Regions from separate parts of the Homo sapiens genome. Here region 1 is linked to region 2. Evidence: fine-mapped expression QTL. A gene starts in region 2. The other region holds a variant in brackets. All regions are shown on one strand. Distances are between the middles of the regions. Region 1 overlaps IGF2BP2 (insulin like growth factor 2 mRNA binding protein 2). Region 2 holds the start of IGF2BP2 (insulin like growth factor 2 mRNA binding protein 2).

The links. PIP is the estimated chance that this variant, and not a neighbour inherited with it, causes the effect.
Region 1: its variant is fine-mapped to the expression of IGF2BP2 in whole blood (INTERVAL, PIP 0.92).

What each region holds. Positions count from the first base shown.
Region 1 is chr3:185,799,487-185,804,856 of GRCh38, forward strand. All of the region lies in intron 2 of IGF2BP2 (insulin like growth factor 2 mRNA binding protein 2), which reads right to left. Among named protein-coding and RNA genes, the nearest start is that of IGF2BP2, 23 kb to the right of the region's middle. RefSeq lists enhancers at 1-484, 3,122-3,623. The variant T/C (reference allele first, on the strand shown) is at 2,690.
Region 2 is chr3:185,822,202-185,827,571 of GRCh38, forward strand. IGF2BP2 (insulin like growth factor 2 mRNA binding protein 2) reads right to left here and starts at 2,841. Exons shown (of 16, transcript NM_006548.6): 1 at 2,582-2,841; 2 at 952-1,012. The coding sequence starts at 2,759. RefSeq lists an enhancer at 844-1,707 and silencers at 2,647-2,877, 2,889-3,158, 3,569-3,658.

The DNA.
Region 1 (5,370 bases), 23 kb before region 2:
GCCTGTAATCCCAGCACTTTGGGAGGCCGAGGCGGGCGGATCACGAGGTCAGGAGACCGAGACCATCCTGGCTAACACGGTGAAACCCCGTCTCTACTAAAAAAATACAAAAAAAATTAGCTGGGCGTGGTGGCGGGTGACTGTAGTCCCAGCTACTCGGGAGGCTGAGGCAGGAGAATTGCTTGAACCCAGGAGGCAGAGCTTGCAGTGAGCTGAGATTGCACAACTGCACTCCAGCCTGGGAGACAGAGCGAGACTCCGTCTCAAAAAAAAAAAAAAAGTCAGGAAACAACAGATGCTGGAGAGGATGTGGAGAAATAGGAACACTTTTACACTGTTGGTGGGAGTGTAAATTAGTTCAACCATTGTGGAAGACAGTGTAGCAATTCCTCAAGGATCTAGAACTAGAAATGCCATTTGACCCAGCAATCCCATTACTGGGTATATACCCAAAGGATTATAAATCATGCTACTATAAAGGCACATGCACACGTATCTTTACTGTGGCACTATTCACAATAGCAAAGACTTGGAACCAACCCAAATGTCCATCAATGATAGACTGGATTAAGAAAATGTGGCACATATACACCATGGAATACTATGCAACCATAAAAAGAATGAGTCCATGTCCTTTGCAGGGACATGGATGAAGCTGGAAACCATCACTCTCAGTAAACTATCACTAGGAGAGAAAACCAAACACTGCATGTTCTCACTCATAGGTGGGAAATGAACAATGAGAACACTTGGACACAAAGCGGGGAACGTCATAGACCGGGGCCTGTCGGAGAGTGGGGGACTGGGGGAGGTATAGCATTAGGAGAAACACCTAATGTAAATGACAAGTTGATGGGTTCAGCAAACCAACATATGGCACATGTATACCCATGTAACAAACCTGCACATTGTGCACATGTACCCTAGAAGTATAATAATAAAATACAATAATAAAAATAAAAAAAAGTACTTGCTGATGTCGTGGCTCACACCTGTAATCCCTGCACTTTGCAAGGCTGAGGCAAGGATCATTTGAGGTCAGGAGTTCAAGACCAGCCTGGCCAATATGGTGAAATCCCATCTTTACCAAAAATACAAAACTTGGCCAGGCATAGTGGCACATGCCTATAATCCCAGCTACTCAGGAGGTTGAGGCCAGAGAATCACTTGAACCCAGGAGGCGGAGGTTGCAGTGAGCTGAGAAGTTGCCACTTGGTGACTGAGCCAAAAAAAAAGAAAGAAAGAAAGAAAGAAAGTACTTGCTGAATACCTGGGAGTAAATGATAAAAGAAATCTGGAAGGTAGGACATAGGCATGTGCAAAGATTTCATGACTAAAACACCAAAAGCAATCGTAACAAAAGCCAAATTTGACAAATGGGATCTAATTAAAGAGCTTCTGCACAGCAAAGGAAACGATCATCAGAGTGAACAGGCAATCTACAGAATGGGAGAAAAATTTTGCAATCTAACCACCTGACAAAGGTCTAATATCCAGAATCTACAAGGAACTTAAACAAACTTATAAGAAAAAAAAACAACTCCATAAAAGAGTGGGTGAAGGATATGAACAGACACTTCTCAAAAGAAGACATTCATGCAGCCAACAAACATATGAAAAAAAGCTCATCATCACGGGTCATTAAAGAAATGCAAATCAAAACCACAATGAGATACCATATCAAGGCAGTTAGAATAGCGATTATTAAAAAGTCAGGAAACAGCTGGGCACGGTGGCTCACGCCAGTAATCCCAGCACTTTGGGAGGCCGAGGCAGGTGGATCACTTGAGGTCAGGAGTTCAAGACCAGCCTAACCAACATGGAGAAACCCCGTCTCTACTAAAAATACAAAATTAGCCAGGCGTGGTGGCACATGCCTGTAATCCCAGCTACTCAGGAGGCTGAGGCAGGAGAATTGCTTGAACCCAGGAGGCGGAGGTTGTGGTGAGCCGAGATGGCGTCATTGCACCCCAGCCTGGGCAACAAGAGCAAAACTCCATCTCAAAAAAAAAAAAAAAAAAAAAGTCAGGAAACAACAGATGCTGGCGAGGCTGTGGAGAAATAGGAACACTTTTACGCTGTTGGGAGTGCAAATTAGTTCAACTATTGTGGAAGACAGTGTGGCAATGCCTCAAGGATCTAGAACCAGAAATACCATTTGACCCAGCAATCCCATTACTGAGTGTATACCCAAAGGATTATAAATCATGCTACTATAAACACATGCACACTTATGTTTACTGCAGCACTATTTACAACAGCAAAGACTTGGAACCAACCCAAATGCCCATCAATGATAGACTGGATAAAGAAAATGTGGCACACATACAGCATGGAATACTATGTAGCCATAAAAAGAGTGAGTTCATATCCTTTGCAGGGACATGGATGAAGCTGGAAGCCATCATTCTCGGCAAACTAACACAGGACCAGAAAACCAAACACCACCTGTTCTCACTCATAAGTGGGAGTTGAATGAGAACACGTGGACACAGGGAGGGGACCATCACACACCAGGGCCTGTCAAGCAGTAGGGGGCAAGGGGAGGGAGAGCATTAAGACAAATACCTAATCCATGTGGGGATTAAAACCTAGATGACGGGTTGATAGGTGCAGCAAACCACCATGGCACATGTATACCTATGTAACAAACCTGCATGTTCTGCACATGTATCCCAGAACTTAAAAT[T/C]AGAAAAAAAAAAGAAATCTGGAAGGTAAACCTAATGCATCCCAGAGGAGCACACAGGTAGAGAGGTTCTGATCACTAGTCCTTTGCTAAGTAGCATCCTCATTCCAGCTTAACACATGAAGTGTTCTTGACTAACCAAGACATGTTCTTGACTAATTACGGTAATACCTAAGGCTGGTGTTGGAATGGTAAGGTGGAAAAGAAGCAGTTTGCCCAAGGTTTCTTTCTGCAAATTTGGAAATAACAGAAGATTCCTCAGAGCCGAGTTCATGAATGCAGGGACAGAGGGTTGGCCTCTTCTGTAACCTGTACTCTAGCTCCACTCTGGCTAATGCATCGTAGTGGGTGCTGAAGTCATGCTCTTCCAAGTTGAAATAATTTGTTGAATTCATTACTGGGTCTTGAGAACATTTTTTAAATTATTCACACATAATTTAGCATTCAGCAATTAATACAGCTGAGGAAACTGAGAGCTGGTAGGCAGTTAATTTCAAAACCCAATGCAGCATTACCAACTAGGTATAAAATTTCTCTTACACACCCACCAGCCAGCCAAAGCACCATCAAGAAAGTTTAGGTCTCTAAAAACCCTTGAGAGAGAAAATATTCAGAAGAAAAAGCTTTTCTCAAGATGAGAACATCCACAAACACTTTCCTGTTGTTAGAAAGACTTAAATAAATGCAGAAGTGCTGAGAGTAGCCTTTGGAGTGCTAATGTAGCAGGGGTAAGCCACCCGCCCGGCCAGTTATCCTATTTCTGACAAATGTAGTTTGCTAGACTCAATCTCAGAGGTTACCCACAGCACTTCTTTTTAAACTAAAATGTATCTCAATTTTATTTTTAGAGGGCTGAATGAAATGTCAAGTGATCAAACATTAAAATAGCCCCAAATCAGGCTGGGCGTGGTGGCTCACGCCTGTAATCCCAGCACTTTGAGGCCTAGGCAGGTGGATTGCTTGAGGTCAGGAGTTCAAGACCAGCCTAGCTAACATGGTGAAACCCTGTCTCTAATAAAAATACAAAAAGTAGCCGGGTGTGGTGGCAGGTGCCTGTAATACCAGCTACTTAGGAGGCTGAGGCAGGATAATCACTTGAACCTGGGAGGCAGAGGTTGCAGTGAGCCGAGATCATGCTACTGCACTCCAGTCTGGACAGCAGAGCAAGACTCCATCTCAAAAAAATAAACAAAATAAAATAGCCCTAAATTACAGTATTACTGGTTACTGGATTCTTCCTGGTAAATATTTCCCAAATAAAAGTACTGAAAAAAGAAGTATTTCCATTTTCTTTAATTGTAAGTATTCTGATCAAAGTTATTTTCACTTTCTGTTGATTAAAGAATACTGTATTGCCATGATTTAAATTAAACGTTTTTGAATGGATGGATTTTTTAACCACTTTCTGTCACATGAAAGTAATTAAGACATCATCCTAACTTCTTCTAGCATAGGGTGGCACCCAGATATTTGTGTCTCAATGGCACCAGAAACCTAAAATGAATCAAGATTGTAGTTCACTGAATAGTGAAATATTATTAATTCTAATTGTAATAGGACAGAACTGAAATTAATCTTTCCTTTAAAGGGGGGTAGGGGTACTCATTCAACAAAGGAATCAATATAAACAAGATCATAAAAGGGAAATAAGCTATTTAAACACATTTCAGGCTGGACGCAGTGGCTCATGCCTGTAATCCCAGCACTTTAGGAGGCCGAGGCGGGTGGATCACCTGAGGTCAGGAGTTTGAGACCAGCCTGGCCAACATGGTGAAACCCTATCTCTACTAAAAGTACAAAAATTGGCCAGGTGCAGCGGCTCACGCCTATAATCCCAGCACTTTGGGAGGCTGAGGCGGGTGGATCACGAGGTCAGGAGCTCAAGACCAGCCTGGCTGAGATGGTGAAACCCCGTGTCTACTAAAAATACAAAAATTAGCCAGGCGTGGTGGCATGTGCCTGTAATCCCAGCTACTCGGGAGACTGAGGCAGAGAATCACTTGAACCCAGGAGGCAGAGGTTGCGGTGAGCCGAGATGGCGCCATTGTACTCCAGCCTGGACAACAGAGCAAGACTACGTCTCAAAAAAAAAAAAAAAAAAATACAAAAATTAGCCAGGTGTGGTGGTGCACGCCTGTAATCCCAGCTACTCGGGAGGCTGAGGCAGGAGAATTGCTTGAACCCGGGAGGCAGAGGTTGCAGTGAGCTGAGATCGCGCCACTGCACTCCAGCCTAGGCGACAAGAGCGAGACTTTGTCTCAAACAAAAAAAAAACAAAAAAACACAGATTTCAGAAGTATTGATATATAACTGATAAGCTGAATATAAGTCATTTTTTCTATTCAATGAGAAGGTCCAGTAGGATTGTTTTTTAGTAACATTTTGTTAGTTTCCTCAGGTTACAATATTTAATTGAAAACAATATAAATTTTTTAAAATCTGCCCATTCAGGCATTCTACTAATTATCACTGCTCTTCCCTTTACCGCAACTAGCTTGAATCAATGAGGCCTCAATGTATTTAATTACAATCATAGGCCAGGCACGGTGGCTCACGCCTGTAATCCCAGCACTTTGGGAGGCGGAGGTGGGCGGATCATGAGGTCAGGACATCGAGACCATCCTGGCTAACACAGTGAAACCCCGTCTCTACCAAAAATATAAAAAAAAATTAGCTGGGAGTGG
Region 2 (5,370 bases):
TCAGGTGGTTAAACTATTGACTGATAAACTGTAAAGGTGGTCATCAAAAACTTCATTGAACAGCTCCAGTCCAGCTACTTAATGACTAATGGTGAAGAAATGTATGTGAATGGGATATAAACTAAGTTTCGACACACAGCAGAAGAAAAAAATTTAGAATGAGTAATAAAGGGCCCAAATTTAAAGTCCACAATAAACTTTAAACAAAGATGTTTTCTCTTCTCTTCTCATGTTAGCAAATCACTGTGGAGAAATCCAACCTCCACAAAACTTGTTACTCCGTCATTAACAACAGTGCACTTAAATATAACTATAGATTTCACAAGGGTATTTATTTTAGCCGCAAACATTTCTTACAAGCAACAACAACAAAATGCTCAGAAGCTATACTCAGTAGTCTCAGTGACTGAAAAAGTCCGGCTTTTAACTGCCATCCAATCCAAACAACCCACTTCTTTAGAAAGCTATGCAAAATATTGACCCCTTACTGAATTATTTTACTATTCAACATTAAACTATCTAAAAGAGAAAAGTAATTAATCGCTAAGTTTAGTTAAGCAATTTAGCTGACATAGTAAATATTTACTCTTCACATCTCACAGGAAGTCTTGACAAGCATTTGCTGCTATTCTGCTGGGGGTAGGGGCGGGAGGTGGGGGTGGGAGGCAATTTTTGATAAACAAGTTACAGGGTCCCAGCGAACTGAACATAGCTGGTGTTCGCCACCCCGACCCCCAATTAGGCACCAGATATTTTCCAAGAACAGTAAACACCTTATATAATGAAAGTAAAAAAAAAAAAAGTAGCTTTCTAAACTATGTATCTCCACTAACAAAACAAACAAAAGCCCCTTTAAAAACTACCAAGAGCACGTTTTTTAAAGCTGTGTGTACGTTTTTTACTTATACGTAAGGCCAATCGCAAAAAAAAAACTAAGCAAAGTATATTTACCTTAGCTTTTTAGAGACTGAGTAATCAACTTCCATGATTTTCCCATGCAATTCCACTTTACCTTTAAAACAGAAATTAAAGCACTCAGAACCTTGCTTAGATCAAGCCCGCGGGGGTCTAGGGGGGGCACGCACGGAACTCCACGCTCGGGCTCCGCCTTCGGGCGCCCCCAAGGGGTCTCCTACCCGGATCGAGCTGGGCGAACTTGGTTCCCAGTAGAAAGAAAGGTGGGCGCCCCGTGTCTCGGGACAAGGCGAGGAGGGTGCGAGCCCGGGTCGGACCCCAGGTATAGCCGTGGGTGGCATTACCGGAAAAACAAATTTAATAAAGAGCGGCGCCAATTTGAAAGGATGAGCTCATTTGAAACTCAAGCTGCAGGGCTGGCGCGGCCCCGCTGCTCTCCCGGCCCCCACCTCTCCATTCCGCTAATCCGGGGCCCGAAGGCTCCACCGGGCTCCCCTCCCTGCCCTCTCCTCCCGGTGGCCCCGAGAAAACGAGCCGAAGCCCCCCGGAGTCCGCCGCAGCGACAGCCCTGTCCCTGCCCGCTCCTGGGTGTCACCTTGGCCTCGCCGCCGCCCCGCCCCCACTCCACACGCCGGTGGGGAAGGGGCTCCCGCCGGGCCGGGGTTCGGGGGGCGCCGGCCGGGGCCCGGGGGCCCGCGCGGCTGGGAGCGGAGCGTGTGCTGGGGAGAGTTGGGGAGTGCGCGCGCGCGAGTGTGTGTGTGTGTCGCTCTCCGTCTCCTGTCTGGGCTCCAGCGCGCTCGCGGGCCCCCCGGTCGCCTCTTTCCCGGTTCTCAACCCTGGCCCCCACCGAGTTGAGACAGGGCACCTCGTAAAAAGGTGCTTCTGGCCGAGCGGGAGGCGGGGGGACGGGCGGCGGAAAGCCCCCAGCCCCGAGTTCTTCTCAATAAAATCGGACAAAAAATTCAGAGAAAAATAGGAGCGCTTGAGAGAGCAAGCGAGAGGGGACTGAGGTTCGGGAAAGGACCGAGGGGATGTGCCGTCGTGCGAGGGCTGGGGCTGGGGGAGCCCCGAGATCTCGAAGGGGGTCACCAGGGTGGCGCCGAGGGGGTGCCAAAAGTGGGGGGCCGTGGGGCGAGGTGGGGAGGGGGCTCGAAAGGAGAGTGCGGCTCAGGAGACGCCAGAGGGCGAGAGGTTCTGGGCACGAGGCACTGGAAGAGAGAAGGTCCGGCCGGGGGAGGAGGAAGAGACGCTGGATTTGGGGAAGGGGGGACCCTGACAAAGGGGGTGACAGGAAGGTCAGGGGAGAAGTGAGACAGGGGACGCTCAAAGGGTGGGGGGCGGGGAAGCTCAGAGCAGCCCGGGGCGCCAGGCGAACGAGGGGTGCCCCTAAGGAGCCGGCGAGCCTCGGGAGCCTTCGGAGCGGCACGGGGGGCGCCCCAAGGCTGCGGCCCCGAGGGCGAGGGCAGAGTCCAGAGCTGTGGGGGGAGGGGAGCGGGCCGTCCCAGGAGCGGGCCGGCGGCGAGAGTTGAGGGTCTGGTGCGTGGAAGTGAGCGTGCGGGCGCGGGAGCCGCCGCCGGGCGCCGCCCGCCGGACTCGGCCTCCCTCCCGGCGCCGTCCCGGCCTGAGCGGGGCGAGGCGGGGGGAGGGGGCCGCGCTGAGTGCTCACCCGAGAGGGTCTCGATGGCGCGGATGGCCCAGTTCTGGTCGGGGTAGTCCACGAAGGCGTAGCCGGACTTCAGCAGGACCTGTCCCGCCAGGGGCAGCTTCCTGTCCCCAAAGAGCTGCCGGAGGTCGTCGGCGGTGACGGCGGGGCTCAGGTTCCCGATGTAAAGCTTGTTCATCATCCGTCTCTTCCCCGAGAGCCCGCGGCTCCCCCGGCCCGGTACCCGGCGCTCCTCGCCTCCTCCGCTGCCCTCGTCTCTCCTCCTCCTCCGCCCCCCCTCCCCGCCCTCCGCCCGCCCGCCACCCACCCCCACCCTCAGCCTGGCTCCCCCCACCGCGGCCGGCCCGGCCCGCCCGGGGGCAGAGGCGGAGGCGGGGACTCGGCGCGGCTGCCTCCTCGGGGCAGAGTCCCGGGCCGGGCGGCGGCGCGCGGACAAAGCGCTCTCTCTGCCTCCCTCTCTCTCCCTCTCAAGGCGGTGGCGGGAGGAGGAGCAGCGGCGGGCGGCGGCAGCGCACCCCGCGTGTGTCTGTGTGAGAGTTTGTACGGGCGTGTGCGCAGCCGAGAGGGAGCGAGCGAGCGCCCCCTCCCCGCCCCGCGCCGCTGCGCCCCTCGCCTCGCGCCCACCGCGCTCGGCAGTGGCTGCTCGGGCTCCGGCCCCGCGCCAGGCGGGCGGAAGCGGGTCGCGGCCCCGGGCTGGGGCTCCGGGCGCCGGAACCCCGGGCGGGCGCGGCGCCGAGGCCGGGCGAGCGGCGGGGCGGGGAAGGCGCGCCCCGGGCGCGGGTGGGAGCGCGCGAGGGGGCGACGGGGAGCCGCGGGCGTGGGAGGGAGAGGGGCTGCGAGTGAGCGCGGAGAGGGGTGTGCGCAAGGTGGACCGGATGTGAGTGCGCTGCTGCCAGGGCAAGCGGGAAGGTGTGTCCCGGAGGTGAGAGGCGAGGGCAGGCTGGGAGACAACAACTTTCGCAGCGACTTGGCCGGGGCTGGCGCCCTGCGCGTTCCCGGGCCGTGCGCTCGCTCTGAGACCCGCTCCCCGCCACGCTCTCTGAGGTGACCGAGCGGCGCGTGTGGTCGAAGGATCGCGCGCGGGAGTCGGGACGCCTAGGACCGGGGTTGGCCGGGCCCTCGCGGACCGTGCTCGCGGGGAAGTGGTTCCCGGTCCCGGGCCTCAGTTTCCCGACCGGGGAGGGAAGGCGGAAGGCCAGCGCGGAGTCACGTCCTCTCCGCCCAGACCCCGCGTGTCCGGAACCCCGCGGCAGGCGGCAGCCTGACGTTGGCAGCTGCTCTCTATTCTGGGAAGTGCCGAGGGCTTCCCGGGCGGCGGCGGCGAAAGCCAGGTGGCGGGTGGGGAAACGAACGCCGAGGGGCCAGGGACTGCGGCGAGGCCGGAGCGCTGGGGTCAGCGGCCGGGGGACGGATGGTCGCCGCCCGGCTGCGCGGCCGGTTCAGCTCCAAAGCCAGGGTGGTGGGAGGCGAGGGTGGCTGGAAGCGGAGGAGCGCAGGCTGTGTAGGAGTTCCCCGAGCACTGGGAAGGGCCCGGAGAGGAAAGAGGTCCTTCCAAGCGGAGGAAACAACGTGACCGACGGAAGAGGCAGGGTTGGGATGAGAGCAGGCTGGAGCCGAGGGGCTCGGGCAGGAGCCAGACAGGCTAGAGCGGGCTGCAAGTTCCGGGGCCCGGCTGGAAGCCTGATGGTTAGAGCCTGGTCCCAGCCAGGAAATGAAATTCTACAGGAGGGAGAAGAATGGCGGGATTCAGAGGTGAGGAGGCAGAAGAAGATTCCAAGCTCTGGACCTCTGGGGGCCACTGGGAGAGTTGAAGGTTTGATCGCGGATATGTTGGGTTTTGTGAAGGCGTTGGGGCGCGGGTGCGGGGAGTGTCCTTGGGTGGAGAAGTCACGAATGTAGGAATGGAACAAGTTCGGGTCTCCTGACTGGGTCGTGAAGTAGTATTGTCTTTCCCAAGCTTTCCTGTTGATGAGCGGCGTGGAGAGAATGGGGCTTGCTGGATTTTGTATTTTCCGCAAGTACTCCCAGGTGATTCTGGTCTGGTAAACACTGTTGGAGTGGAAGGCCTATCTGCCCCGGACTCAGACCTTCTCTCTGCCCCCATCTTTGTGCCCTGAGATGTTCCAGCATTCTCGAGCCTAAGTTTCTTCATCTATAAGGAGATAAAATAACCAGTCCTCGCAGGGCTGTTGTGAGGGCTACAAGAAGGATAACTGCCTAGCGTGTTGAGACATGGGTGGTCAGACACTTAATGCCTGTTTCTCTTCTTTCCCCCAGGAATTCATGAACTTTTAAAATACTTTATTCTACAGAAGGAGATCTTCTTAACTAATTAGGTATCCAGAGGAGAAAGTAATGAATCCATTTTCACCTAGATATTTGCAGTTATTTGAATTCTGGCTTTTGTCTCAAGTATTCACATATTTTTTTCTCTCTCTAGAAAAAGAATCGGATTTTACTGCTCCAGGAGTTGAGAATGAACTTGGTTACTAATCCCCAAAGTAATAGATAAACTAGGTGTGGATGCTTCTTTACTAAATTGTATCAGAGAATCACAAATGAACATGACTTGTGCATGCATAAACCTCAGCAGACTGAACTAACCATCTTTAGATTATTTACACATGTGCTCCTAATTGATATGGTCACCTTTATATTATAGGACAGCATATTTGCTTATTATTCACAGGTACATGTAAAGGAGAAACGAGAGTGGCAGGAATAGTTGGCCTCATTCCTCTCCAACAGGTCAGAAAAACTTGTTGTTGTTGTTGTTGTTGTGTAGCATTTTA